Linked DNA regions of Homo sapiens: regions 1 and 2 are each linked to region 3. The links come from fine-mapping of genetic effects on gene expression. A gene starts in region 3. Each other region holds a variant in brackets. All regions are shown on one strand. Distances are between the middles of the regions. Region 1 overlaps ZNF618 (zinc finger protein 618). Region 2 holds the start of COL27A1 (collagen type XXVII alpha 1 chain). Region 3 holds the start of KIF12 (kinesin family member 12).

The links. PIP is the estimated chance that this variant, and not a neighbour inherited with it, causes the effect.
Region 1: its variant is fine-mapped to the expression of KIF12 in unexposed skin (GTEx, PIP above 0.99).
Region 2: its variant is fine-mapped to the expression of KIF12 in hippocampus (GTEx, PIP 0.91).

Annotation. Positions count from the first base shown.
Region 1 is chr9:113,920,509-113,930,442 of GRCh38, reverse strand. The region is part of intron 1 of ZNF618 (zinc finger protein 618); the gene reads right to left. Among named protein-coding and RNA genes, the nearest start is that of ZNF618, 49 kb to the right of the region's middle. The variant G/A (reference allele first, on the strand shown) is at 4,386.
Region 2 is chr9:114,148,935-114,158,868 of GRCh38, reverse strand. It overlaps COL27A1 (collagen type XXVII alpha 1 chain), which reads right to left and starts at 3,332. Exons shown (of 61, transcript NM_032888.4): 1 at 2,857-3,332. The coding sequence starts at 2,918. It overlaps LOC105376225 (a long non-coding RNA gene), which reads left to right and starts at 4,601. Exons shown (of 5, transcript XR_930256.3): 1 at 4,601-5,774; 2 at 5,872-6,029; 3 at 6,182-6,276. RefSeq lists silencers at 2,166-2,460, 3,348-3,467 and an enhancer at 5,004-5,525. The variant G/A (reference allele first, on the strand shown) is at 5,581.
Region 3 is chr9:114,094,399-114,104,332 of GRCh38, reverse strand. KIF12 (kinesin family member 12) reads left to right here and starts at 5,041. Exons shown (of 19, transcript NM_001388308.1): 1 at 5,041-5,082; 2 at 5,164-5,229; 3 at 5,320-5,398; 4 at 5,904-6,031; 5 at 6,143-6,218; 6 at 6,592-6,726; 7 at 6,897-7,032; 8 at 7,855-7,946; 9 at 8,126-8,282; 10 at 9,001-9,119; 11 at 9,206-9,310; 12 at 9,878-9,934. The coding sequence starts at 5,057. It overlaps LOC124902251 (a long non-coding RNA gene), which reads right to left and starts at 5,978. Exons shown (of 2, transcript XR_007061740.1): 1 at 5,895-5,978; 2 at 3,514-5,255. RefSeq lists an enhancer at 4,717-5,252.

The DNA.
Region 1 (9,934 bases), 170 kb after region 3:
TAAACCTATGAAGTTTCCCATCATGAAGCTCAATGCATATCTACAACTAAACATTTTTAAGGGAATTCAAGTAGTAGAACTGGGACTATGATTTAAACTAACTAGTTTTAAATGTATAAACCCAACATGAAAGTTTTATGAGCAAACAAAGCATGTGCAACGCTTTTCCTGCCCCTAAATGACTTAAGTAACATCTAAGAAAATGAGTAAAAGGTAACCTTGACATACATTTCAGTTTCCCCAAAAAACTTGGGGGAAATTCCAGAAGCGAGGCAATTTCCCCATGTTTTGGCTTCAGAACCTACAGACAACGTGTAACACTAGGTCTCCTTTGCAAACAAGGAGGAATGAATGAGGGCCATTGGTTTATCACAACCTAGGACCACTCCACTCCTCCCAGAACACGTGAAAGCCCTATAGGCCAAGGCTGTTATCAGAGGAAATGCTTTTAAAAACACATTCATCATGGGGGAAAAAGCCAAGATAAACAAGCTCTGAGTTACTGGTTATTCATACAATGTCATGTGATGACTGCTATTTCCACTCTTCTTATTAGAAAGCCATTTTGTTATTTAAAGCAACAATAAAGACAAAGCTGGCATCGGGAAGTACTGCCATGAAACACCAACTCATTCCAAAACCATTTCCTTATCTCGGGTAACAAGTGAACTAAAGGTTATGTTATTGTCACTAAAGCATAGAGTACTGGAAGAGCTTTGGCCTTATCCCCACTATAAAGCTGGGAAAACTGAGGCCCAGAGAGCACATTTCAGACCTGAATTCAGGATTCCCAGCCCAGCTTGGTCCACCCAACATTTGTCCCTGACAAGAGGCAGGGATACTAAGCAAACCACAGCCCTTACTGTATCCCTGTCTCCCAGCTAATTTAAGGGTGCCACAGCCTCCAGCAGAGTTTTGAAATAGGAGAACATCAACACCTACCAGGTGAGGACTTTCAATTTCAGCCCTGATATGTACAGAGCTTGGAAGTCATCACTCCCATCCTTACAACAAGAAAAAAGCTGCAAAAACTGAAAATCAACAAGTTTTCTTAGATATATCAGAGGATTGAGGCCACAGAGCAAACCACCCTGAAATCTGCAGAGACAGTCAACTGCAGAGAAATACAGCTTACCAGGAGCTGCAGTGGCTGGGGCTGGTAACTGGTAGGAACGTTTAAACAGTAACTGACTTAGCTGCTAGAAGCTGAGTATGCACTAGCTTGAGAGTTAAAATCTGGGGTCCAGTCTTAGGGGAGTCATCACATTTTCATAGATTTTAACTCCAGGAGCTTGAACAGGTTCTCATGGTGGAGATTAGACAATAATCCCATTGTCCTTCAGTGAGATGAATGTGGAGTTGGGGGTGGAAAATAACCATTTAAAATACACCAGGGGAAAAGTGATCATTCTGAAATAGCATAGAGTGTGCTGTTCTCCAGAGCAAAGGCCTGCCCTTGAAAGAATCTACCTTACCACAGACTTATCTGACCTAAGGGAAGGACAACTGGACAACTCCAGCCTGTCGAGCCTTCCTATCTCACATAAAGGGAGAAGAAAAGGCTATGAAATTTTTCTGAAGATCACAGCCCAGGGATGCAGGCCCACTTAAAAAATAATAATAATTGAGATTGAATCATGAGAGTATAGACTACTTCCTCTCCCTAATACTTAACCACATCAAAAAGACTCCAATATAATAAGAGTGGATTACAAATGAGACAGCTGCAAGACACAGATTCTATTTAAGAAGGAGTTTCTAGGGAAATCTAAAGACAACAGGAAAAGGGAGAGAAAACAAAAAACAAAGAAAAGAGGAAATTGAAGCTTCTGGCATCTCCAGCTACAGCGAACATTAAACACAGAACAGTTCCTAGCCACATAAACATAAAACTTCACACTAATATCCTCATGACCTCTGTTTCTATTAATAGATACGTCAGGTCTGGCTTTCAACAAAAAAATTACATGGTATTCTAAAAGGCAAGGAAAGAAACACAACCTGAAGAGAGACAGCAGACATCAGAACTGGCTTAGATATGACACAGACTTTGGAACTGTCAGATAAGCAATTGTAAATAACTACGATTAATATGTTTAGGGTTCTAATGGAAAAATTAGACAACATCCAAAAACAGATGGTTAACATAAGCAAAGAGATGGAAACTATAGGAAAGAATGAAACGAAAACACAAGAAATCAGATACACAGCAACAGAAATGGAGAATGCCTTTAATGAGCTCATCAGTAGCTGGATATAGCTGATAAAAAACAAAAATCACTGCATTGGAAGAGTTCAATAGGAACTATCCAAACTGAAGTACAAAGAGATTTTCAAAAAGAGATGATACAAACTTCTGGTTTCCATTCCAACATGTAAAGAGCTTGGAGGCTGTCACTCCATGCCTCGTAACAAGAAAAAAACCTTAACAAACTGAAACTAAACAACTTTTTAGATCCATCAGAGAACTGAGGTCACAGAGCAAACCACTGCCCCTAAAAGTGGAGAGACAGCAAATAAAGAGAATTGCAACTTAAGACAAGCTGATGAACTCGCTTGAAAGACGAAAACTTCCATGAGCTTCACCAGCTTCTCAGAGTTAAGATGGAAGAAAAATCTCCTCATGGTGGGGTAGGGACAAAGTAACATTTTGAAATACCTGCAGAACATACTGTTCTATTCAACAAAAGCCTGCCCTCAAGGGAAACTATTTACTAGGGTCTAACCAAAGTGGGTTTTACCAGGGTCTGATTGATATGGGGGAAGGGAAATGTCCTTCTCCAACCCCTCTAGTTTTCAACACAAGGGAAAGGAAAATATCCAACTCCAGACTCCTCTAGCCTTCCTGTCTCACCTAAGGGGTTAAAGAAAAATTTCACAAGCACATGTAAAGGTCACGACACAGGGGCACAGGCCCACTAAAAGACTGAGAACCAATGAGAGGATTCTAGAACACTACCCCTCGCCCAGTCCTTAGCACCACATCAACAGGACTCCTGTATGCTAATGGGATCACAGCTGAAAGAACTACAAGGATTGGTCACTATTTAAGGAATCTCTAAAGAAACCCAAAGACAACAGGTGAGACAAAAACAAGGACCAGAGAGGAAATTTTAGCCTCTGACACTGACAGCTACAATAAATTGTAAACACAGCCTAATTCCTAGCCTGATAAACATAAAACCTCACACTAAAGGCCTATTTACCTCAGTTCCTTTTACCTAATACATCATGCAAGGCTTTAAACCTCACATTAAAATGCTGATTACCTCTGTACCTACTACTAGATACAACATGTCCAGCTTTCAACAAAAAATTATAAGGCATGTTAAAAGGCAAAAAACTGAACAGCTACAGTAAGAGGCATCAGAACCAGACTCGGATATGACATAGACTTGGGAATTTATTTACTTTTTATTTATTTATTTTTGAGACAGGGTCTCATTCTGTTGCCCAGGCTGGAGTGCAGGGGTGCGATCTCAGCTCATTGTAACATCTGCCTCCCAGGCTCAAGTGATCCTCCCACCTCAGCCTCCTGAGTAGCTGAGACTATAGGCACATGCCACCATACTCAGCTAATTTTTGTATTTTTTGTAAAGACAGGGTTTCACCATGTTGCACAGGCTGGTCTTGAACTCTTGAGCTCAAGCGATCCACCCATCTTGGCCTTCCAAAATGCTGGGATTACAAGCATGAGCTACAGTGCAGATTTGGGAATTTAAAATACCAGTAAAAAATACACAAAGTGCTCTAATGGAAAAGGTGGACAACATGCAAGAACTGCTGATAATATAAGCAGAGAGATGGAAACTAAGAGAGAATCAAAAGAAATTGCTAAAAACAGAAATTTCATAAATAGAAAAAACAGAGAAAAAAGAGTGTAAAAAATAGAGCCAAATATCCAAAAACTGTGAGATAACTACAAAAGGTATAGCATAAATGTAATGGTAATACCAGAAAGAAAAGAAAGAAAAAACAGAAGAAATATTTGAAGTAGCAATGGCTGAGAATTTTCCAAAATTAATGACAGACACAAAACCACAGATCCAGGAAGCTCAGAGAGCACCAAGCAGAACAAAAACCAAAAAAACTGTATCCCAGCGTATCATACTCAAATTGCAGAAAATAAAAGACAAAAAGAAAATATTGAAATATTTTTGCAAAAGGGGTCCAAAAAACCTTACTTATAAGAAGAATAAGGATAAGAATTACATTGGATTTCTCTCCAGAAATCATGCAAGCAAGAAGATAGGTGAAATACTGAAAGTCCTAAAAGAAAAAAAAAAAAAACAACACCAACCTAGAAATCTGATCCAGTGAAATTATCCTACCAACATGAAGGAGAAATAACAAAAAACAAAATTTGAGGGAATTTGTTGCCAGAA[G/A]ATCTGCCTTGCAGGAAATATTTTTAAAAGTTCTTCAGAGAGAAGGTAAGTAATTTGGGTCAGAAACTCAAACAAACAGAAAGAGAAGGACAGTGTTAAAGAAGGAATAAATAAGAGTAAAATAAAATCTTTTATTTTTCTCATTCTTACCTAACAGATAACAGTTTGTTCAAAATAGTAACACCAACAGGATACTGGATGATTATACCATGTGGATAAATGAAATGAATGACAGCAATGTTATAAGGGAAGGGAGGGAAGAATTGGGACTACTCTGTTATAAGATATGTGGCACTAACCATGAAGCGTCAAAGTGTTACTTGAAAGTGGACTCAGATTAACTGTACATGTATACTGCACACTCTAAGGAAAATCACTATTTTTAAAAAATAATTGATATGTTGAAAGGGAAGAAAATAGAATCATATAAAATGCTGCAGAGAAGGGAGAAAAAGAATGGAAGACAAAAGAAGAAACAAAGAACAAGGGCAACAAATAGAAAACAATTATAAATGTGGTAATATTAATATACCATATCAATCACTTTAAATGTGAATGGTCTAAATGCCAATAAAAAGACAGAGATCATCAGAAAGGATTGAAAAAAAAAAAAAGACCCAACTAACTACATGCTGTCTATAAGAAACTCACTTTAAATATAAAAATGCAGATATATTTGGATTAAAAGTAAAGGTTTGGAGAAAGATATACCATACTAAGACTAATTAAAAAAACCTAGAGTAGCTATATTAATTTCAGACAAAGCAGAAGTCAGAGCAAGGAAAATTATCAGGGATAAAGAGGGGCATTACATAATGATAAAGGGGTCAATTCTCCAAGAAGACATAAGAATCTTTAATGTGTATGTACCTAACACAGAAACAAAATATGTGAAGCAAAAACAGAACTGCAAGGAGAAATAGACAAATCCACCATCAATATCCTCTAGCAACAACTGACAGATCCAGCAAGTAGAAAATCAGTATCTAGTTAAATTAAACAACATCATCAATCAACTGGATCTAATTGACATTATTATAGGGTATTGCATCCAACAACACCACAATACACATTCTTCTCAAGGACACACAGAACATTCACCAAGATAGTCACATTTTAGGCCCAAAAGAGCACCCTAACGAGATTAAAAGAACAGAAACCACACAAAATCTGCTCTAAGATCACAATGGAATTAAACCAGAAATCAATAAGAGAAAGACTGCCAGAAAATTCCAAAATATTTGGAGACTAAATAACACACTTCTAAATAACACACAGGTCAATGCAGAAATCTCAAGAGAAATTAAAAACTATTATGAACTAAGCGAAAATGAAAATACAATTATCAACATTTATGGGAAGCAGCAAGTGCAGTGATTAGAGGAAATTTTATAGCACTGAATGCAATATAAAATCAATAATCTGAGCATCTACCTTAGAAAACTAGAGAAAGAAGAACAATATAAACCAAAGGCAAGCAGAAGAAATCATAAAAATTAGAGCAGAAATCAATGAAATTTAAAACAGGAAATGAGTAGAGAAAATTAATGAAACTAATGGCTCATTATTTGAAAAGATCAATAAAATTGATAAGCCTCTAGCCAGGCTAACCAAGACCAAAAAAAAAAAAAAAGAAGAAGAAGAAGAAGAAGAAGAAGACACAAATTACTAACATCAGAAATCGAACGGGGTCATCACTACTGATCTCATGGACATTAAAAGGATGATCAAAGGAATGTTATATACAACTCCTTGCCCACAAATTTGGTAATTTAGATAAAATGGACCAATTCCTTGAAAGACACAGGCTACCAAAACTCAGATAAGGAGAAACATATCATCTAAAAATGCCTGTATCTATTAATATAAAGGAAACTGAATCCATAATTAATAAACTTTCAAAAAAGAAAGCCCTAAGTCCAAGTGGTGAATTGTACCAAACCCTTAAGGACAAAATGATACCAATTCTCTACAATCTCTTCCATGAAGTAGAAGCAGAGAGAAAACTTCCTAACTCATTCTACGACACTAACATTACTCTAATGCAAGTTTAGCATCCCTAATCCAAACATCTTAAATCCAAAGTGCTCCAAAATCTGAAACTTGTTGACTGCCAAGATGATACTCAAAGGAAATGCTCACTGAAGCATTTCAAATTTTGGATTTTTGGATTAAGGGTGCCCAATCAGTAAATATAATGCAAATATTCCAAAATCTGAAAAGAAGTCTGAAATCCAAAATACTTCAGGTCCCAGGCATTTCAGATAAGGGATACTCAATCTGTACCAAAACCAGATAAAGACATTACAAAAAAGGAAAACTACAGACCAATGTCTCTTCTGAACAAAGGTGGATAAATGATCAACAAAATAGTACAAAATTGAACCTAAAAATGTTTTAAAAAGTGTATGCCCTGACCAAATGGGATTTATTCTTAGAGTTCAAGACTGGTTTACCACTTGAAAATCAATAGTGTAACCCATCACATCAACAGGCTAAAAAAGAATAGTCACAGGATCATATCATAGATGTGCATTTAACAAGATTTGACACTCATTCATAATAAAAACTCTTAGCAAGCTAGGAAAAGAGGGTAACTTCCTCAACTTGATCAAGAACATCTACAAAAAACCTACAGCTAACATCATATTTAACGGAGAGAAACTAAATGTCTTCCCCCTAAGATCGGGAACAAGGCAAAGATGTCCTCTCTCATAATTCCTATTCAATGTCATAGTGGAAGTCGTAGCTAATGCAGTAAGACAAGAAAAGGAAATAAAAGGTATACAGATTGTAAAAACAAAACAAAACAAAAAAAATTTCTTTATTCACAGATAATATGATTGTCCATATAGAAAATCCCAAATAATCCATTTTAAAAACTGGAACTAATAAGTGATTATAGGAAGCTTGCAGGATACTAGAGTCAATTGCTTTCACATATCCCAGCAATGAAGAACTGGGATCTGAAATTAAAAACACAATGCCATTTTTATTAGTGCCAAAAAAATAAAAACGTAGGTATAAATACTTAACAAAACATGTACAGGATATCCACGGAAAACTACAAAACTCTGATGAAAAAAATCAAAGAAGATCTAAATAAATAAAGAGATATTCCATGTTCATGGAGGGAAGACTCCGTATTGTTAAGATTTCATTTCTTTCCAACTTTATCTAAAGATTTGATACAATCCCAATCACAAGTCCAGAAGTTGTTCTGTGCATATCAACAAACTGATTCTAAAGTGTATATACTGAAAGGCAAAAGACCCAGAATAGCCAATACAATCCCAAAGAACAACAATAAAGTTGGAGGATTGACACTACCCAGCTTCGAGACTTACTATAAAGGTACAGTAAACAAGACAGTGTAGTGTTGGTGAAAGAATAAACAAGTAGATCACAATAAACAGAACAGACAGAATAAGCAGAATAGAAAGCCCAAAAATATACCCAAACTAATATAGTCAACTGATATTTGACAAAGGCACAAAGGTAATTCAAAGGAGTAAGGATACTCTTTTCAACAAATGTTGCTGGAACTGGGCATCCGCATGCAAAAAAAAAAAAAAAAAAACAAACCAAAACAAAACCCTCTCCGGCCTGCCCCTGTCTGCCAGTGTACATAACTTAGGACACCAACCACAACCACTTTCTTTGGATAGAAGGTATTGGCCCTCTGGGCAGCTGCCAACTTATCTTCCCTCTGCCCCGTCCAGCCCTCCATTTCATACCTAACCACTCCACAGTGAGATCAAAACTCTCAGAGCCCATGACGACTTTCACTATCAGTTTCAGGCCTTTCCTCAGTCCCATTTCTGTTCCAATTTCTTCTCTTCCTTTTATCTGCATAAATTGTCCCCTGGAGAAATTGTGTTTATTTTTTGTTCCCTGGTTTATCCCCAGGATCACACACAGAGTAGGAGTTCAATAAATACTTCTTGAATGAACAAGCTTTTAAGTTATGTACATGTCATATGTGTTTTCAGTACATACATCAAAGTATCGATACATCAAAAATCAACATCCAAAGTGATTATCTCTGCATGGGAAAGTTATGGGTGATTTTGATTTTTTTATTCCTTTTTGCTCATTGGAACTTCCTAACTGTTCAACAGCGAACATGTATTGCTTTGGATAATACAAATAACAGGAAAAAAAAACCCTCCCTACAACATAAGAAAGGCCAGGTTTATACAAAGGAAGCATCCGAAGTGATGATTCACTTTATAGAAGGCATCTTTTGCTTTGTAGAAAGCTTTGTCATAAAAATATTTTATGTAAGGAGTAGTCAAAAAAAGGATTTGATCTGTGGGACACTTCAGAATGATGAAGTTCAGAAAGTCCCATTTCCCCTGAGAAGAACAGAAGCTGTTCCTTCTTCCTTCTTTCCAGATCATGTTCTGTTTCCCCATCTTCTCAAGGAAGACCACAGCACATTCCCAGCTGGTCAGTTCCAAGCTCAGTGACTCCTAACTCTGTTTGCCTCCGGGGTTTCATCTTCAGATGTGGGTGTTTCGAGACTCTGGAAAACCAGACTGGATTCTCTGCTGGGCCATAACCATGAAGAAGCCTTTCAAGGGACTGGCTAAAGAGAGAACACCCTCAGCCTAACATGTGGATGGCTAAATCAACTCTGAATCTCTGACCTCATGAAAACCCTTCCACTCAGTGAAACCAGACATCATACAGGCAGTCCCCAACAAATGCTACCCTGGGACAGGCTTGCCTGTGTGCTTTGCACTCATTCTCTCTGAAGTCCAGAGCAGAATCTAGGTGCATAACACTGGCCTGATTTTACAGATGGGGAAACGGACCAGAAAGGCGAGATAATTTGCCTAGGAACACCCAGGTATTAGGTGGGAGACACAGGACCCAGGATTCCAGCCTTGGTCTAATGGATGCCAAAGCTGCAAGATAAATGAATACATATGCTCAAGTAACTTTTTAAAATAGCAAAGGTATTCAACATCTGATCTGTGTCAGGTTCTAAGAGACACATGCTGAGCTGGAGCCACCAATAGGTCAGCCATTGCCCCTAACCTGATGGAGCGTGCATGCTAGCAAGGGAAACACACCACACAACTGACTTCCACTTGTGAAATGGGCTACCCAGGTAGCACTGTCACCCTCAGCTAGGTGGGACACAAATGTATGGCTTAGCAAAACTACAACTAGCCACATGGCAAACTGCACAAATCTCCAATGCTAAATCCTATTGATACTATCACAAACTGTCATTGATGTGGCTCTTCCCATGTGCTAGGTACTGTGCTTGCCACTTCATATCCATTCTTTCATTTAATCCTTACCACCACCTTATGATGTAAACTCATTAAAAATTGCGACTCTTGGCCTCGCACAGTGGCTCATGCCTGTAATCTCAACACTTTGGGAGGCCAAGGCAGGCAGATCAGCTGAGGTCAGGAGTTTGAGACCAATCTGGCCAACATGGTGAAACCCTGTCTCTACTAAAAATAAAAAAATTAGCCAGGCATGGTGGCGGGCGCCTGTAATCCCAGCTACGTGGGAGGCCGAGGCAGGAC
Region 2 (9,934 bases), 55 kb before region 3:
TGTCTCCATGGAGCAGAAATTGGAGACTTGCAGGGACTTCCTACTTGCCAGAGACCCGAGCCCCAGCCTTCACCAGCAGGAACAGAGATGCAACCCAGGGAGCCAACGAGCCATCTAAGTCAGCTCCAGGCCTGGAAAGTTGGCTCTCAGAGGGAGGCCCTGCCGATTCTTTTGCTCCCGTTCCAATCCTGTTTAGGCTACTGCTAATCATGGTTAGTGCCTGTGCTGGCTCAGGGCTTTGTTCTTCCAGACTTCTGTTTTCACCACTTGTCTTGTGGGCCTTGTCTCTGCAAACCCAGGGCTCCAGAATGTCAGGAAGACCAGAGCACAGAGGCCAGGGAGGCCAGGAGGCAGCCGAAACGGGAGCCGCGAGGAAACATCACATGGAAACATCGTCTGGCCACACAGCCCTCCAAAGAGGAAACCCAGGTGTTTCTATGCCCTTGCAAAAGGCCCTCTGCCAGTGCACCAAATGGGGCTACTCCTGGGTAACCACACTGCCAGAACCGGCAGACTGCTTGGATAGTTTTCTTCCATCCTTATTACCTGGAAACACACAGGATCTTAGAAACCCACACCAGCTTCAACAGTCACTGAGGGCTCTGAGCTGAGACCCAGGCCACAGAAACACACAGGGAAAGTGGCCCTGTGGACACTAGGCTTGGCTGTTCACGCATGGGGTAAAAGCTGAAAAGGGAGCTAGCTGGAACTACAGCTCATCAAGTGGGGTGGACCTGTCCCACCTGCCTCCATGGACTGGCCAGACCCCCTGTGCCCAGACGGCTATGCCTGGGCTTTCTTCACAGCTTCCACGTCCTCCATGGGAACACAGACAGGTCATCGTCTGGAGAGGATGCAGCCCAGAACTTTCCCATTGACTCACACACCCATTCAACATGAAGGGAATAATACAAATACCAGCTGCCGTTTACTGAGCACTTATTACATGCCAGGCCCTGTTCTAAGCCCTTTACAAGCATGGTCCTGTTCATCTTCACAAAACCCAGCCAGCTAGGAATAAGGTGCCGGTTTTGTGGAAGAGAAAAACAAGCAGCAGAGTGGCTCACCCAAGCTGGCACAGCAGAGTTAGGATTCAAACTCGAGCCTGCCTGATGGCAAGCCTCATGGCCCTCCTGTGGTGCCGCCTGCCTCCCACCAACATGATTCTGTGAGTGTCTCACTGCTGTCCCCTACCACCAGTGGATATGTTACTCTGCGTAGCCAAGCCAGGCATGTGGGTATCAAGAGGGTCCCTGGACAGAGATGGAGGAGAGAAAATGCCAACAAAGAACAGGGGAGTGTGCTCAGAAAGGGACAGAGACCACCAGGAGGCTGCTGGCTGCTGAGGGTCCGCAGCGCTGGTGGAGGCACAGGAGAGGGAGAATGTTCTGAGTACAGGGAGGAAACAGAAGGAGGCAGAGGCCAGGGATGTGTCCATAGACATGACATGGAGTTTGGTCCGGCCAGAAGGGTCCAGGAGCAGAGGCATGCTGGAGAGCAGAGGCATGCTGGAGAGCAGAGGTATGCTGGCGCCAGAGCGCACATGATGCAGGACAACGTGATGTCAAGGGAGGCAGGGAGGCAGGAGAAGGCAGAGACTGGGCCTCCGAGCAGTGTTGACTGCCCACTTGCCCACAGCTGGAGCCCCACCATGGGGTGCTCGCCTGGCACCACTTTTCTGCCCAACTGCTGGCATCTACCCTGGCGCAGGGTCTTCTGGAGAAAATGAGTCAGCAGTGTGCTCACTGGTGCCGCGCGCGCGTATGTGTGTGTGTGTGTGTGTGTGTGTGTGTTGTGGTGAGGGGGTGCGGGGCGGGGGAATCGCAAACAGCCAGCTTTTTCCAAGACATGGGGAAGAAAGGAGGGGGTGTCATCCCGCGGACTCCAGCTCAAAGGGGGCAGGGCCCAGCTACAGCCCTAACAGCCTCTGGGGAGTGTCCTGGTGTCCTGGGGGCAGGATGGAAAGAGAGGAGCGCCGTCCACAGGCCCCAACGGGCTGCTTGCATGCTGCTGGCTCCCACACACACCCACACGCTGCGCCGGCTCCAGCACAGGCTCACTCTCTCTTACAACTCCTACTCCACACGCTGGGAATCCCAGCCTCTGGGCCCCAGCTCCGCGCAGCCGCTCCTGGGAGAGTCCCTGCCCCTCTCCGGCCCTGTCTCCCGATCTGTACACTGAGGGGTTCCGCACAGTGATCGCCCAGGGCCCTTTCTGCTCTGACATGCTGGCTCTCACTTTTTCTCTCTTACACACGTGAAAGGGACAGGAACCGAGAAGCAGGAAACACAGACACACAGACCCAGGCCGACTAACACAAACACGCGGAGATTTCCAGAAACGCGGGGACGTGCAGAGCCACACAGACACGGAGACAGGAGCAGAACCCGAGACCTGGTGACCTAGAAACTTGCGGACAATTTCACAAGAACAGATAGAAACGGAGACGTACAGGCTTGGGACCTGCAGACACTGAGACACCGGAACACACCGAGACGGCCCCAAACGGAGACCCCCCTCCTCCCCCAAGCATCCAAAAAGCCCCCCTCCGCACCCCGCCGGCCGCTCCAGGCGCCACCACCCACCCCCACCCCCGACCCCCGGGCTGGCTCTGCCCCCGCCCCAACGGGATCGGGCAGCCGGGCCAGGCGCGGCAGGGCGGGCAGCGTTCGCCAACTCTCGCCCGGCCGGGGGCGCAGCCCCTATTAACCCTTGGCGTCCCGCCTCGCGGGGGCGCAGGAAGGGGCAGGAAGCTGACGTTCCGCTGGAAGCGACCGCATGGCGGGGAACCCCGGCCCTCCCCGAGATTGGAGCAGCAGGAAGCTAGGGAGGGGGCGTCCCCGAGTTCGTACTCACCCCCCGCGCGCCGCCGCCGCCGCCGCTGTGCCTCGGGCCCCCCGCGCCGATCCCGCTCCCATGGCAGGCCCCTACTTCATGCTCCCGAGCCCGGGGGGCAAGTGTGGGCGCGCCCCATGGGGCCGCCAGCCCCCCGCCCCGCCGCGCCAGGCCGGCTTAGAGCGCGCGGCCCCCGCGCCCCCAGCGCAGCCCCGCGCCCAGGGGCGCCCGAGCAGGCAGGCAGCGCGGCTGGGGCCCCGCGGGCGCCCGCGCCAGGCCCATGGTCCCAGGAGTCCGGGCGCCGCGCTCGCCCCTGCCTCGGTCCTTTTCTGCTTCCACCAAAAAGGAAGAAGAAGCAAGAAAAAGAGAGAGAGAGATGATCAAACTTTTGGAGGCGGGCTGCTGGCGGTCCCCGGAGGCAGAGCAAGGCCGGGTGAGGGCGCGCGGAGGGCGGTGGAAGCTGCCTCCCCGCCGGCCTGGGGGAGGAGAGGAAAAGGAAGGATTTGGGGGAAATGAAGGCGATTTAAAGTCTCGGCCCGCGGTGGCTCTCCACCTTCCCTCCTCCCCGCTCCCGGCCGCCCTCTGCTGCCCCCTGCTGCCCCCTGCCGGCCGGAGCCAAGGGTACAGCCTCAGCTGGCCCACTACAGCCCCGATGGGACACCCGCCCCCCTCCTCCTTGTATAGATGGGGAAACAGATTCACAGAGAGGAAGGGGCTGCCCAGGGCTTCACGGTGATTTGATCACCGTTCTGAGATTAGGAACTTCTGACTGGTGAGGCTGGGGGTCCTCCAATGGGGGGTTGGGGTAGGGGAGAAGGGCCAAATTCTACTCCTGGAAGAAACCCACAGTTTCAGGGACGGAGCTAGGACCAGAACTTGGTGTCCAGACGCCCACGACAACCAGTATCGTGATCCCCACCGCCCACCAAAAGTTTGCGCTCCCAGACTCGGAGCGCCCTGGAGAACATATAGGGTGGGCTTGTTAAGGGTTTGCCACCCTCTCTCTCCCTTCTGTCAGCAATTGGAATCTAACCGCACCCCACCACCACCACTAACCACGCACCTCCCCAGAATCGACAAAAACTCCCTCGGATCCCATCCGGGAGCTAAGAGCTGCACACCTTGGCCCCCGGGCAAATTCTCACACCCAAAACTCCAGTCCAGCCCTGGGACCACAGCTCCCTCCGCCTCTACCACCTCTTGCCACTCGTTCACGAGCAAAGTTACACTTATTCACCGGTGCACACACACACTCCCACACGTATCCACCCTTTCCCCAAACTCAGACACACGCTCACACACGGTCCCATTCTGGGACAGCCACGCACCCTTCCTAGGTTCACACGAAACGCATCCTCAGATATCTGGGCTCAGGCGCACGCTGATACTCTACACTCGCAGAAGCATGCACACGGATGCTTACACAGGCACAAATGCACGCTATCCTGGCCATATCGCCCCCACACATGTACACACCCCGGGTGGACACACGCGCGCACACCCTCACTTGCACACAGTTCTCCGAGAGTGCCCACCGCACATGTGCACACACGCATTCACTCCTCACGCGTGTACCCACCTCCCCATACGCGCACACCTTTAGGCGCGCGCACACACAGGCATATAACACTTCGCACCGCTCCAGGAGCCCCCAAGCACTTACTGGGTCCCTACGTGCGAGGCTGGCCGGTCGGTCCTTCCTCCGGCGCCTAACGGCATTTGTATTCATGGGTCCCCGCAGCCGTGGGCGCGGGGGCGGGGGGCGAGGTCCCCTTCCCTAAACGGGGCGCGGGCGCGCGGAGCGCAGCGGCACCGGGAGGGGCATGGGCGCGCGGGACTGCGCCGCCGACCCGGTCCGCCTGCGCTCGAACTTCGGCAGCTCTGCGTCCACGGGCTCCGGCGCGGGCTCCGAGAGCTGGGGGCGGCTCATAGGTGCTGGGGCGGCGGCGCCCGCCGGGCCTTTTGAAGTCTCCGCTGGGGGCGGGGAGGGGGCGCTGAAGGCGGCCTTTTAAACCCTGGCTGCACGCGGGCTCGGTCGAGCAAGGTGTCTGGTTTCAACAAACTTTAGGAAAAGTCCCAAGCCGAGAGAGGGGAGGTAGGGGGGTTGGGGGAGCTGCATAGCTGTGCGCTGCTTCCTGCAGAGGGCAGAGCACCCATGGCTGCCAGGAGGGAGGCCAGTCGCGGGACTGGGGAACTGGCAGGCTGCTGGCCGGCGCGTGGAACCACCCCCGCCACCCCCGCACCCCCAATGTTGAACCAGAGTTCTTAACTTCCATGTGCACGAACCCCAGGGAGTGCAGGAACACCCCCAAACTGTGCACAAATTGAGCATGTTTGTGCATTCTTCAGGGGAGAGGGGCCGTGGGCTTTCCTCCGGTTTTCAGAAGTCCACGGCCCCCTAAGGTTGAGAACTCCCTCTTCAATCATAACTGATGTTTTTTTAGTTGCATACTTGGTACCATGCAGACCCTGTCTTTATTTACATTTTAGATATTTTGTTCATTGTGGGGTTTTGCATTAATTTTGATACTTTTAAAAATATTTTAAAAGTAAAAAATTAAAATATTATTTTGATTACTTAGGGGTTTGGGGCACTGCTTTGGGCAATTTACCTCCGTTGCTGAGTTTTCTTGGCATCTCCTGGTATGCTGCATCTCTGCATGTGCCACACCCTAGTCCAGACCCTGACCCACACAGTGCTGGGGTTTAAGGGAGGCCTGCTTTTTTCTCTCCATTTACAGATGG[G/A]AAAGCTGACATAAACGGGTAGGTGGTAGAGGTGGGATTTGAACCCAGGTAACCTAACTCCAAACTTCTGCATCTTGTCATAAGGATCCAAATCTTAGGCTTTAAGGGGTTCTGTGCAGATCCTCAGCAGCCTCCCCAGCTTCAGATCCGGCCTCCTGAGCTCCAGTCTCTCTGATACCTGCACCCAGGCTCAGGTAAGCTTGACTACTTCGATGCTTTCTCCATACTGTTTCCTCCCAGGTTCTCCCTCTGCCCCTTTTCTGCCTGTTCACAACCTGGTTATTCTTCTAGGTGCAGGCCAGAGCTCACCTGACTCTGGTGAGCTGCTCTGCCCTACACCGGGATTGCAGCACACATCACATGGCGCTGTCATTGTCAGATCCATCTCTGTGTCCCCACACCCAGCCTGACACATGGAGCCTGGGATACAATAGATGCTCAAACCGTTGGTAATTTAAATAAGTTATTTGTTTTAACTCCTACAGTATGCAAACCCCTGTACAAGACTCTGGGGGAAAAGGGTCTGCCACTGTGGGGGCAGGGACAAAAATTTCCATATGGTCCTGCCTTCTGGTCATGCACGCATTTGTAATGTGGACAGGAGACACGCACAGCAACTTGGGGTAGGGAAGAGAGTCTGGATGGGAGACATCAGACATCACTATGTCATGGAGAACCCCCTGCAACTGCATAAAGGTAAGATAATATAAGGAGAATGTGATAAATGCCACCAAAGAGATGCAGATCAATTGAATTGTGAAGCTGATTAAGGGATGGAAAGAAACCGAGGAAGGCCCCCAGGAGGAGGTGGCATTTGGATCTTAAAGGGTGTGTTGGATAAATGTGCAGCCACAGAGGAGAAGGACATCTCCGGTGAAAGAGTCACAAAAAGACCAAGAGGACAGAGTTGGATTTCAGGCAGGTTTTGAAGGAGGATTGAGGCGGTGGGGCCCAGTGAGAAACTGGGGAAACTGTCCAGTTCTCCCCACTGTATTGTGTGGGTGATACCACACGACTCACTGTCCACAAAGCCATTTCCAGGCAAGGGACTGCATTTCCTGAAAGGTCAGGCAGGCAGCAGGTCAGTGGCTAAGCACCAAGGCCTTTCCAAATTTCACTCACAAATGTGAATAGGCAAGGCTTAGTGCCAGGGAATGCTGCCTGCTTCACCCAGGTCAGCCCAAAAGACCCGTGAGAATGCTATGAGAACCCAAAAGGATTGAGGACATCCCCTCTCAGAGCCTCACTCTGCCCATCTGTAAAATAGGTGCATCAAACGTGATGATCTGTGTGGGCCCTTTGAGCTTGGAGGCATGAGACTGTCCTTCAACAAGAAATCCAATTATGTATGTGAATATTGAGGGCTAACTGCATTTTGCTAGGTCGGGAGGGAAATGAGGCTCATGGCCTTCCAGGAGCTCATGGGCAGCTGAGAAGAGGAGGCAGGGACACTGGGGAGAATTCCAAGGAAGGGCCTTGTATCCTGCCTCTGCCGTCTCCCCACAAGCAGTCTTCCTGCCAGGCAGGTTCTTGGCGCAGAGCCAGTGACTGGGCATGAACTGTTCTGATGGACGTTGAATCTGGAAGACACCAAGCCATTACCCACCCTTCAAAGGGGACAGCACACTCACCAAACAGCCCTAAGGGGCCCATTTCTATGGGGCAGAAGGCAGTAAGCCTGGGAACCAGGTGGGCAGGGGCTGCCAGGCCTCTGTAGATGCCTCAGGATGAGAATTCCTGGCCTGGTGGGGACTTTCAGGGAACACATAGTTTGTTCCCTGCTCAAGCAGCTCAGCCATGGACCCATCGGTCTCTGTGGCACATCTGCCTTAGGAGAAGCTGTTGGTTGCAATAGCTTTAATGTTGGGCACACAGTAGATGCTCACAAAATATTTATGAATGAACCACTAGATGAAGTGTTTGTTTTGTTTTGTTTTGTTTTGTTTTTTGGTAGAGACAGGGTCTCACTTTGTTGCCCAGGCTGGTCTTGAACTCCTGGGCTCCAGCAATACTGCCACCTTGGCCTCCCAAAGTACTGGGATTACAGGCATGAGCCACTGCACCTGGCCCTAGAGGAAGTCTTAACCTGCAGGACAGAGGTTGCATACTGCCCCAAGTATCAATCCACGTCCGTTTACCCACCAAGCTGCTTCTGAAGACCCACTGTGCACCAGGCTGGGTTTTCTGCTCTAGAAGCGCTATGGTCTGAGGAAGGAGGCCAGCAAAGAGAAAGACAGATAAAAAATGCAGGTCAGGAAGTCCTGCCTCAAATCAAGCCTGTTTAAGTGGTACTGCAGGGCTTGGAGGAGAACCAGATTCCTCCCACTAGGAGAAGAGCTAGAGTCTGCCAGTCTTTCCAATACCCTGCACTGCTGTGGGCATACCAGGCTGGGTCTTTCTTTCATTTGGCGGCCCCACCCTGCGTGTAGCAAAGGATACGCACACAATACATGTCTAACCATGGAGTCATTCTTTCCCTGGTAGGGAGATGCTGTCACGCATCAGGCCCTGAGCTGGCCACTGGCAAATACAAGCTGTGGTCCCTGCTGGACGCGGCTGCCTTGTTTAGCTTCTGACAACAACACAAAGCACAGTGCCTGGCACATAGGAAGTTCTCCACAAGTGCTGAGCGAATGACGGAATGAAGGCCTGAATGAAAACATGAAAGAAAGTAAATTCAGCAGATTAGACCAGGTTAACCCCCGCTGCCACCTCCTCCCTCTCCTCCATGATGACCCTCACCCACCAACAGATATTTGTTAGGCACGTGCAGACCCAAAGCATATGGAAGACCCGATTTTAGGTGCTGTAGATATACTGAAGAGCATACACACAAAGCATCTGTCTTAACAGAGGAAGAGGAAATACACAAATCTGTTATATGACATCAGGTTGTAATGAGTGCTATGAAGACCTCTAAGCAGGGCGTGGAGTGGCAGAATGATGAGTGGGGCCATTTTATTTAAATAGGGGCTATTTTATTTAAATATCACCTTCTCTGAGGAGGTGATGTTTAAGCAGGACAGAAAGAATGGGGGGAAAGAAATGAGCGAGTGAGTCACGTTCAGCAGAAGAACCATGGGAAGGCAAGAATGGGTCCCCACTGACTTTTCATTCCTGTAATTCCTTGGTTAAATGTAGACCTTACATTCCCTGAGGGCAGGAGCTGCTCTGCCCTGCTCATGGCGGTATTCCTAACACCCAGGACAAAGCATTTTGGTAAAATGAACTGAATTCCAGGCTGGAGTGAGGCAGATTCTAATAGTGTCTCTCTCACCCCCTCCAGGCAATGTGGGCCCATTTCTCTCCCCAGGGCAGGTGGCTGGAGTCAGTGCTGGCTGTCCTCATGGCCCACTGGTCTCCTAGGGCCTGGGTTCTGCCTGCAGGACTACGTCACTCTGGCCTGGTGGCTGCCAAAATTCCAAACACAATCACTCTACCAGAAGGAATAAGGGCAGAGGTCAAAGAAGCTCCCAGGCCACCATTGGGAGGGCAGCACCTTCTAGGCACATGGTCCCACCATCTGGGCCCTTCTGCCTCTTCCCCTCTCTGGGTTTATTTCCCAAGGGCTAGGCCAAGTGGCAAAGGGCTGTGAGATCCAAAGCCCACTTATGGTGGCCAACACTGACCCAGATGTGGGGCCCCGTGAGACTTTTCAGACCTGGAGGAACCTATGGAGCTGCCTAGCCCAAATTCCTCATTTTACAGGTGGGGAAACTGAGTCTCAGAGATAGCATTCATGATTTTCTCAAAGCCACACAAAGTTAATGGTGGGGCTGGTGTGAAGAAGCAGGGCCCCCCACCTTTGTGTCTAACCGCAGAGGGTCAAACCTGTCTCTCCAGCCTTCAGCACAGTTAGTCATCCTTGGAAGAATTAGATCCATTTTCCAGATGTGAGCACTGTGGCAAGTTAAGGTCTCTGGCCTCTGCCCGGTAATGTGTCCGGAACCATTGGCTATACCAGACAAGCCATTAGTGATGAGTTCTGGGCCACCCCCAGCAGCCCAGGGTGGGGATGAAAGCAACTGATGATTTCAGGCCTTGGCTCCTGTGGCCACCTCCGCCTAGAAATGCCCTTCCTGCTCTTCTTCACTGGAGTCCTGTCTCGGTGTTCCCTCCGCTCTGCCATGCCAGCCCCCATCCTGCCTGGTACACCACACACCTATACAACAGGGAGCCCTGCAAGGCTACGGCTATGTCTTATGTCCATAGAACCCCTCAGTAAATCTTAGATGGACAAAGGAAAGAAGGGAGGGAAGAATCAGGGAAGGAAGGAGGGAGGGAAGAGAGGCAGAGCTGGGGGTGGGTTGACCATCATCCAAGGACATCCCTGCAACAGGGGCGGACACTGTTG
Region 3 (9,934 bases):
GTCTATTCCTTCTGGCAGTTCAGTTATTAGATGAATACAATTTAAGATTATTATGTCTTCCTGTTGAATCACATAATATAATAAAATGCTTCGCAGTGTCTCTATTGATGCTTCTTGCATTAGAGTCCATTTCGTCTGATGTTAATGTGGCTGTACTGCTTTCTTTTGGTTAGGGCTGGTGTGATATAACTTTCTATTCTTTCATTTTCAATTGTTTCTTTTCTTAAATTTGAAGTTGGCTTTCATTTTTTTCAATATAGAAACATTTTGTTTCTTGTATCCAGTCTGACAATGTTTGTCTTTTATTTGAAGTGTCCAGCCCATGTACAATTAATATACTTGCTGATATAATTGGGTTTAATTGTATCTTGTTATTTGTTTCTTATTTGTTCCATTTATTCTTTGTGACTTTCTTTCTTTCTTTGTTTTTTTTTTTTTTTTTTTTTTTTTTTTTTTGAGATGGGGTCTTACTCTGTTGCTCAGGCTGGAGTGCAGTGGCACGATCACGGCTCACTGCAGCCTTGACCTGGGCTCAGGCGATCCTCCCACCTCAGCCTCCCAAGTAGCTGGGACTACAGTCCTGTGCCACCATACTCAGCTGATTTTTGTATTTTTTGTAGAGATGGCTTTTTTCCATGTTGCCCAGGCTGCTCTTGAACTCCTGGGCTCAAGCAATCCACCTGTCTCAGCCTCCCAAAATGCTAGGATTACAGGTGTGAGCTACCGTACCCGACATCTTTGTGACTTTATATCTCATTTTTTGTCTTCTTTTGAATCAGTCAAGTAGTTTTAATTCATTTTTCTCTATTAGCTTCTTAGTTTTAACTCTTGTTTTTGTGATAGTTACCTTAAAGATGTCACTATACATCCCTGAACTACTACAGTCTACCTTAAGTTAGTACTTTTATCACTTCCCAAACAATTGAAGAACCAATGCTACAATTCTATGGTTTAACTCCATTCACTCCACTTATCCTTTATTCTAGTGTAATGTCTGTTTGCTTCTATATATATTATAATGGTAGCAAAAAGTTAGTGTTACTTTCTTTTAAACAGTCAAAATGATTCTTTTTTTTTGAGACAAAGCCTTACTCTGTCACCCGGACTGGAGTACAGTGGCATGATCTCGGCCCACAGCAACCTCCACCACCTGGGTTCAAGTAATTCTCCCGCCTCAGCCTCCCTAGTAGCTGGTATTCCAGGCGCCCACCACCATGCCCGGCTAATTTTTGTATTTTTAGTAGAGACAGGGTTTCACCATGTTGGCCAGACTGATCTTGAACTCCTGACCCCAGGTGATCCACCCCCCTCAGCCTCCCAAAGTGCTGGGATTACAGGCATGAGCCACCGTGCCTGGCCTCAAAATGATTTTATATACATCCTATATTTATTCTTTCTCATGCTCTTTATTTTTTCCTTGAGCTCTATCTCATTCAACATATAAAAATTTCCTTCAGTATTTCTTGTAGTGATGATCAACTGGAGGTGAATTTCTCAGCTTCTGTTTGTTCAAAAATGTCTATTTTACCTACATTTGTGAAGGATACTTTTGCTAGACATATAATTCCAGGTTGATTTTTGTTTTTTAATCTCAGCATTTTAAAGATACACTGTCTATTGTCTGTTGGCATCCATAGTTTCTATTCAAAAGTAGTTGTCAGTCTTCTTATTGCTACTTTGAAGGCTATGGTTTTTTCCCTAAGGCTGCTTTTATGGTTTCTTCTTTGTCTTTGGTTTTCAGCAGCTTAAGATGTGCTAGATATTTCTTTATATTTAATCTTTAAAGTGGGCTACAAGGTTGCACATAACCAGGCTCCTATTAACTTTATAATCTTTTTCTTTTTTTTTTTTTTTTTTGAGATGGAGTCTTGCTTTGTCACCCAGGCTGGAGTGCAGTGGTGCCATCTTGACTCACTGCAACTTCTGACTCCCAGGTTCAAGTGGTTCTTCTGACTCAGCCTCCTGAGTAGCTGGGATTACAGGCCTGTGCCACCATGCCTGGCTAATTTTGTATTTTTAGTAGAGACAGGATTTCACCACGTTGGTCAGGCTGGTCTCAAACTCCTGATCTCGTGATTTGCCCACTTCGGCCTCCCAAAGTGTTGGGATTATAGGCATGAGCCACTGCACCCAGCCACCTTTATGATCTTTTGTCTCCCACTCTTCCCTTGCTAACTGTGTTCCAACCACCCTGGCCTTCTTCCATTCCTTGAACACACACTGGTCATACTCCACCTCAGGACCTTTGCATCGGACAATTCTTCTGCCTAGGATAATCTTCCCCCAAATATTTGCATGACTAACTCACATTCGTCCTTGAAGTCTTTCCTCAAAAGTCACCTTCTCAATGAGGTATTCCATGACTATACTATATAAACAACAACCTGTTCGCCATCGCCAACACTGAGTGATACTATTTCCGTAGCACTTTTCAGCTTTTAACATACTATGTAAGTTATTTATATGCTTATTTTTATTATCTGCCTTTCCCACCTCACTAGAGGGTAAGCTCCATAAGGGCAAGAATTTTTATCTGTTTTGTTCACTAATGTATGCATCTCAAGTGCCTAGAAACCTGCCTGACACCTAGAGGAGGCTTAATAAAAACTTGCTCATGACTGTTCAATTTAAGGGTAGCAGATGTTTGCACTCACTGTTAGAGAACAGAACCAGGACTTTGCTCCTGCATTTGTGATTCAAAGGACATCAAATCATGTACACATTCTGACCCAGGTTGGGAAGCCTGGTGCACAAGCCCCCACTGACCAGCATGCAACATATCCCCTGTTTCTGCACTTTTATCAAAATCCTTTCAAGGTTGGGCATGGTGGCTCATGCCTGTAATCCCAGCACTTTGGGAGGTTGAGGTGGGTGGATCACCTGAGGTCAAGAGTTTGAGACCAGCCTGGCCAACATGGTGAAACCCTCCCTGTCTTTACTAAAAATACTAAAGTTAGCTGGGCGTAGTGGTGAGTACCTATAATCCCAGCTACTTGGGAGGCTGAGGCAGGAGAATCACTTGGATCCAGAAGGTGGAGGTTGCAGTGAGCCAGGATCGCAACATTGCATTCCAGCCTGGGTGATAAGAGAGAAACTGCATCTCCAAAACAAAACAAAACAAAACAAAAAAAACAAAAATCCCTTCAGCGTGGCTCATCTCAGTCCAGCCTGAGGAGGGCCAGCAATCTGACTAAACCAATGCACACTAAGATGCTAGTGATTGATAGTCTTTAACACTTTCAACAGCTTTTAAAGGAGCACCTTGTTCATTTACTGGGTTTACTCCTGACAAAAGCAACTTGCCATAGCAAGCAGCATCAGGATGTACAGCTCATAGTTCTGGGTTTAAACTCTCAGTTCTGCCATTTGTTGTTTTCTCCTTAGATAACTTTCCCTGCCTTTCGCTGTTTAGTTCAGTTTTTTTTCCTCTGAAAAACAGGGATAGTAATTTTTGTCTTATCCACCTCAAGGACTCAAAAAATAGATTAAGGAACTTCAGAGTTGAAAGGGAACTTAGAGATCATCTAGGAATTTTTATTTTTGTTTTTAGGTAATTATTTACAACTTTCACTTTCAATGACACATCTCATTGAAATCTCAGAACAACTATGTCAAATAGGAGAGAAGTCATTAATCTCTTTTTACAGGAAGGAAACAAGAGAAGCCAAGACTGTGGCAAGTTAGTGGCAGAGCTGGGGGCAGTGGTTATTAGTTCTACAGAACTTTCCCTGTGGCCCCTGCTAGAGGGTCCTATAACCAAAAGGTCAAATGGCTCTTTCTTATACATCTCCATTGCCTGGGGAGCTCACTGCCATCCAAGACAGCCCATTCTCCAGCAGGGTGGCTTTGATAGTTGGCTGTAATTTGTGGTGGTATAGAATGTGTCACATTGAGAAAAAGTGATTTTTAGGGCTTTCACCCTAATGTGTGTTTGGGGGCCGGAGAGTTTGCAGAAATATTCAGAGAACATACAAAGACAGCCAGAATGACAATAATAATAACAATGCCAACCTGATGGTGTCACATCCCTGTTTATAACCCTTCAATGGCTTCCTGGTTCCCTGAAGAGTGAGTCCAGACTCCTTGATGTGCCCACCATAAGCTAGATCCAGCCTCAAACTACCTCTCCATGCCACACTCATCTCCCCACCCCACCCTGGCCATCCTGACTCCTGTTTGCTTTGCCTGGAATACCCTCACCTCCTCCCCACCCCCACTGGCTCCTACAGGCCTCTGTACTCCCCCTAAAGGCCCTACACGCTGCTGGGTTGTACTTATCCATCTCCCCAGACACACTGTGAGCTGGGAAGGGTCAGGGGCTGCATGGGGTTCCTCTGCCCTGGTGCCCAGCATGGAGACTGGTACAGAATAAGTGATTGCCCCATCCCTGCACATTCACAGACATCTCTGCTGTTCTCATAAGCCAGACCAGGAGAGGGTTAAACAATCATGCTGGCCTAGGATTAACTTTGGCATTAGAGAGGCAGGTGCCCCAGTGTTTTACCAGATGCTTGGAAACCTGTTCTCAGGTCAGCTCAGAGATTCAATCCAGCCAGGTCGTCCCTAGAGCTGACTGAGACCTGTGCCACTCCTTGGGCCCTGAGCTGAGCTGCTGGGGGTGGGAGTGGGGGGTATGTGGAGAGGGTGGGAAAAGCTTGGTCCTGTGCAGGCTAGCTCTGTGGCCTTGGTTGAGTCCTTCCTATCTGCTTAGGTATCCCCAACTGGGCACAAAGGAGGCCGGTCTGGGTGGTCCCACGGGTTCCTCTTGTGAGGACTGGCCAAGAGCAAGGGATCCTCAGACTCCAGAACCCCCTAGCTAGGGGTCCCCTAGCTTGGGAGAGACTTTCTCCACCGCAGGGGTGAGGAAGGGTAAATCTTTAACGAGCTAGCCCTGGGCAGCTGGAGTCTTTCCGGATGGATGGCTGCCTGGGATGGGGGATGGGGTGGGAATGCAAGATGTGTGTAGACAGTCCCAGTGTTGTGGAGAAGGGAGGGTATTGGTGGGGGGTAAATAAAGGAGACGCGGGCGGAGCTAACTCCGTGTGCAGAGCAGGACATGGAAGAACGCGGGTCACCCGACGGGTAAGCAGATCTTCAGACAGGTTCGAGGAGTCCTGAACAGCCGCTAGGTGCAGGTATGATAAGTCGCATTGCTGCCCACAGGGATCTCGCGCGGAGCCTGGAGCAAGGGCCAGAGGGGCCGGAAACGCCCATCCAGGTGGTGCTCAGGTGGGTATAAATTGGCTAGGAGGCACCTGGGCGAGACAAGGATCGAGGAAGACATCAGGATGTACCATCTGCCCTTCTGTCGGACCCCAGGGTACGTCCCATGAGCGCGGCCGAGCTGCGTCGAGGGCAGCAGAGCGTGCTGCACTGCTCAGGGACCCGGACTCTGCAGGTGAGGAACCCCTCTCTCTATCTCCCCAATAAAAAATCCCGGGGACGCCAGATCCCTTCCCCCAGGCAACTTTGCCCTAGGCCCCGCGCTCCCCCGGAGTGGTCCTCTCCCAGGTGCCCCGCCCTCCCCAGAGTGCCCCTCCCTTCCAGGATGCCCAGCCCTCCGCCAGGGTGCGCCGCGCCAACCCCTGCGAGTGCCCCGCCCCTTCTGAGTGCCCGCCCACCCAAGGTGCCCGCCCCCCCCAGAATGCCCCGCCCCTCCAGGGTGTCCTACCCTCCCCAGAATGCCCCGGCCCTAGTGAGTGTCCCCCACCCCACCCCCAACCCAGGGTGCTCGCCCACCGAGTGCCTCACCGAGCGCCCTACCCTTCTCCAGGGTGCCCCGCCCTCCTCCAGAGTGCCCCGCCCTCCTCCCGCGTGCCCCGCCCTCCTCCACGGTGCCCCGCCCCTCCAGGGTGCCCCGCCCTCCTCCAGAGTGCCCCGCTCCTCCGCCCCACCCGCGCCAGGTGAGTCCTCCAGGCGGGGGTCCAGAAGTGGCGTTCCGCTTCGGTGCGGTGCTAGACGCGGCGCGCACGCAGGAGGACGTGTTCCGGGCGTGCGGCGTGCGGCGCCTGGGGGAGCTGGCGCTGCGCGGGTGAGTGAAGCTTCGCCTCCGCTCCGCGCCGGGCCTGGCGGGGCCCCGAAGCACCCCCAGCCCCCACCCCGGGTAGCCGCCGGAGTCCAGCCACGCCCTTGCCGCCCGCAGTTTCTCCTGCACTGTTTTCACCTTTGGCCAGACGGGCTCTGGGAAGACCTACACCCTGACTGGACCCCCTCCCCAGGTGAGCGAGCGCCGGCGGCGCCCCCGCGGGGCGGGGCTGGGTGGGCTGGAAGCCCTGGGGAGCCGCAGGCGGCGCAGACTCCCAGAGGGAAGGGGCTGGGACGACGCCGCCTGACCCGCTTGTTTGCAGACGAGGACGCTGAGGACCAAAGAGAAGGGACTTGCCCAATTTGGAGCATTTGGGCTTCAACTTTGGCCCCTTCCTAGCTCTCAGTTTTCTCATCTGTAAAATGGAAGTGACAGTACCGACTATGAATTAAATGAGCCATTGTTTGGGAACTTGGCACGTTTCCCGGCGCACGGTATCATACATGCGCTACAGAGGGTAGTTATTACTGTGGAGATGACGATGGCTCAGCTGGTTTTGCCCCTAGGGGGAGGGGGTGCCTGTACCCCCCAGCCTGGCTGGCATCATGCAGAGGACCTTCGCCTGGCTGTTGGACCGCGTGCAGCACCTGGGTGCCCCTGTCACCCTTCGCGCCTCTTATCTGGAGATCTACAATGAGCAGGTAAGGGAATGAGAGGAATAGAAAGACAGCCCATGAGGAAACGGAGCGCTTCTTTCCAGGGAGCCTGGATCAAAGGACAGAAGAGGCGGTGGGGACTGTTGTCAGTAAGATCTGGGGATGGGTGGACTCAGAAAGATCCCCTTCCCTCACCCTCCTCCCTCCCCTCCCAGGTTCGGGACTTGCTGAGCCTGGGGTCTCCCCGGCCCCTCCCTGTTCGCTGGAACAAGACTCGGGGCTTCTATGTGGAGCAGCTGCGGGTGGTGGAATTTGGGAGTCTGGAGGCCCTGATGGAACTTTTGCAAACGGGTGTGTGCTGACAGCGGGGAGTTTTGCGGGTAGGGGTGCCCATTCCTCAGTTGTTCACTGAGTGTGGACTTGGGGCCCAGACTGCAGCTGCAGCTTCAGAAATGATTCCTGGGGGAGGTGGGGAAGGACCAGTAAACCACAATTCAAAGGCATGGCCCAAGGGCCTCCCCGCACTGCCAACAAGGCCTGCTAATTCTGCCTTCCAAACTCCTTTCACACCCTCTCCTCTCTAGCCCAGGGCCTCGGCCTCCGCCAGGACTCATTCTTGCTCCCTGGTGGTCTCTGCACCTCAAGGCTCTCCCCTGCCCATCCATTCTCCTCTATGCTGCAAACCCCATCTCTCTTTGCCTCCAGACCCTCCACCCTTCCAGGGCCCTGAGGATCAAGGTCATACCTCTTAGCCTAGCCTAAAGGCCCTTTCAGCCTCATTCTTTTTTTTAAATCAAGTATTTATTGGGCACCCCTCCTTTGGCAGGCACTGGAGATGCTGACTGTGGATTCTGGCCCCAGCACTGTGCCACACCTCTCAGCTGATCTCCTGCCTCAGTTTCTCCCCTTCCTTTCACGAAGCAGTGGGAGAGATGTTTATAAAATGCAAATCTGACTGTCATTCTTCTGCTCAGTTTTCTCTATCCTCCATCCACCCATCTCTGCTAGAGCAGGGCCCAACATCCCATCGTTCCCTGAACAACACCCACTCTGTTGCCTCCCTGCCTTTGCATGAGGCTGACCCTTCCGCCAGGATTCCTTTGCTCCTTTTTCTTCATTGATGATGACCTGTTCTTCCTACCAGGTCCAGCTCCTGATGTTTTTCCCTTCCAGGTCTCAGCCGTCGAAGGAACTCAGCCCACACCCTGAACCAGGCCTCCAGCCGAAGCCATGCCCTGCTCACCCTTTACATCAGCCGTCAAACTGTGAGTGCTCCAGCCTGGGAAGGTGCTTACCCGGGGCCACCAAGCAAGGGTCTGTATCTGGACATATAAACCAACTTGGGTGTGCATGGGGGTTAATAATGGAAACTCTTGGTCCCATAACCTTGTGGCTTTGATGGGGACGGTCCCTCCCAAGTCCCCATGAAGCTCTGATCCCTCAGGCCCAGCAGATGCCTTCTGTGGACCCTGGGGAGCCCCCTGTTGGTGGGAAGCTGTGCTTTGTGGACCTGGCAGGCAGTGAGAAGGTAGCAGCCACGGGATCCCGTGGGGAGCTGATGCTTGAGGCTAACAGCATCAACCGAAGCCTGCTGGCCCTGGGTGAGACCTGGGGGCCACCGGTGTGATTTCCTGTCTCTCCTCTGTGCCTGGCTCACAGCTCTCCACAGTGGGGGATACCAGAGGAGTTGTAGTAAATAGAAGAGGGTTAAAGAGCTGCGATCCAGGAACCAAAGGCCCCATTCTGGCCCCAGCTCTGCTGTTGACTTCTCCCTTCGTAAAACACTGCTTATGAATGTATAAACTCTAAGGGTGTATAAAGTTCCATGCTAATTTGGGAAATAGAACCACTCAACTGCAGAAGATGAACCCTCAGAGACATTTGGCATGTCCCTTGTGCAGTTGGGAAGACTGAGGCCTAGTAAGGGGAAGGGACTTGAGCTTTCTCCCCAACCCCACCCCAGGGTATTGGACCTGGAGATCCTCAGGGGCTGTGCCCTCAGTATTCCTCTGTGGCATGCATGTGAGATGCCCGCGAAACTCCTTTGTGTACAATCCATTTGTTAGAAGTTTCCTTCTGAGTGCCTGAGTACCAGGCACTTTGCTGGGCATTGAGGGTCAGGGTATACAGGGCCTTCTCTGCCCTCAAAGAGTCCCAGTCTGGTGGTGGAGACCAATCTGACTGAGTCATGAGATCATGTGGAAAGATGGGTTTTTAGGGCAACACAGGCCTGGGTGGAGAGCCCAACTCTGCAGCATCCCAGCCTGATGGCCCTAGGCAAGTGATGTAACCTTCCTAACTCTTGCTCTCCCTCCCCAGGTCACTGCATCTCCCTGCTGCTGGACCCACAGCGGAAGCAGAGCCACATCCCTTTCCGGGACAGCAAGCTCACCAAGTTGCTGGCAGACTCACTGGGAGGGCGCGGGGTCACCCTCATGGTACTTAAGCGGGGCCTGGCAGGGAAGGTTGGGTCTTGAGGAAGGGGCCCTCAGAGAGGAGCGCTCAGGGGGAGTGCACTCCCCAGGTGGCCTGCGTGTCCCCCTCAGCCCAGTGCCTTCCTGAGACTCTCAGCACCCTGCGATATGCAAGCCGAGCTCAGCGGGTCACCACCCGACCACAGGCCCCCAAGGTGAGTATAGGCAGGCACAAGCTGAGGGACAGGCGTGGAGATGCTGGGGGATCAGGCAGGAGTTGGAGCCTGAGTCCCTTGATTGAAGTCTTGGACTGGGTCAAAGTTGGGATTAGGGTTGGAATCCTGGAATCGGTATCATGGTTGTATAGGATGGGGTCAGGGTCCCAGCCAGGGTCATGCCAGGTTTAGGGCAGGTCTAGGGTTGGAGTTTGAGTTGGGATATGATTCAGGGTCTAGCTCAGTTAGTATCATGGTTAAGTGGGAGTTGATGTGGGGCCTAATGTGGGGTCTCGTTTGGAACCATTATCTGGCCCAAGGTTTGGACAGAACTGAGTTTGGGATTGGACTCACAGCTGAGTCCAGCTCAGAGTGGGGCCCTCCAGGACAGTGCACTTAGGACAAGGTGCCCCTTCCAGGCAGATACAGCCTTGTGCCAAGATGCAAGGCTGACGAATGAAGCATGGGCTGGATTTTAGGCCCCAGTTACTTCCCACACCCGGAAGTTCTTGTGCAGTGCACGACTTATACAACCATAAAGGTGGCTCTGGGCCTCTTTCCCTACAGTCTCCTGTGGCAAAGCAGCCCCAGCGTTTGGAGACAGAGATGCTGCAGCTCCAGGAG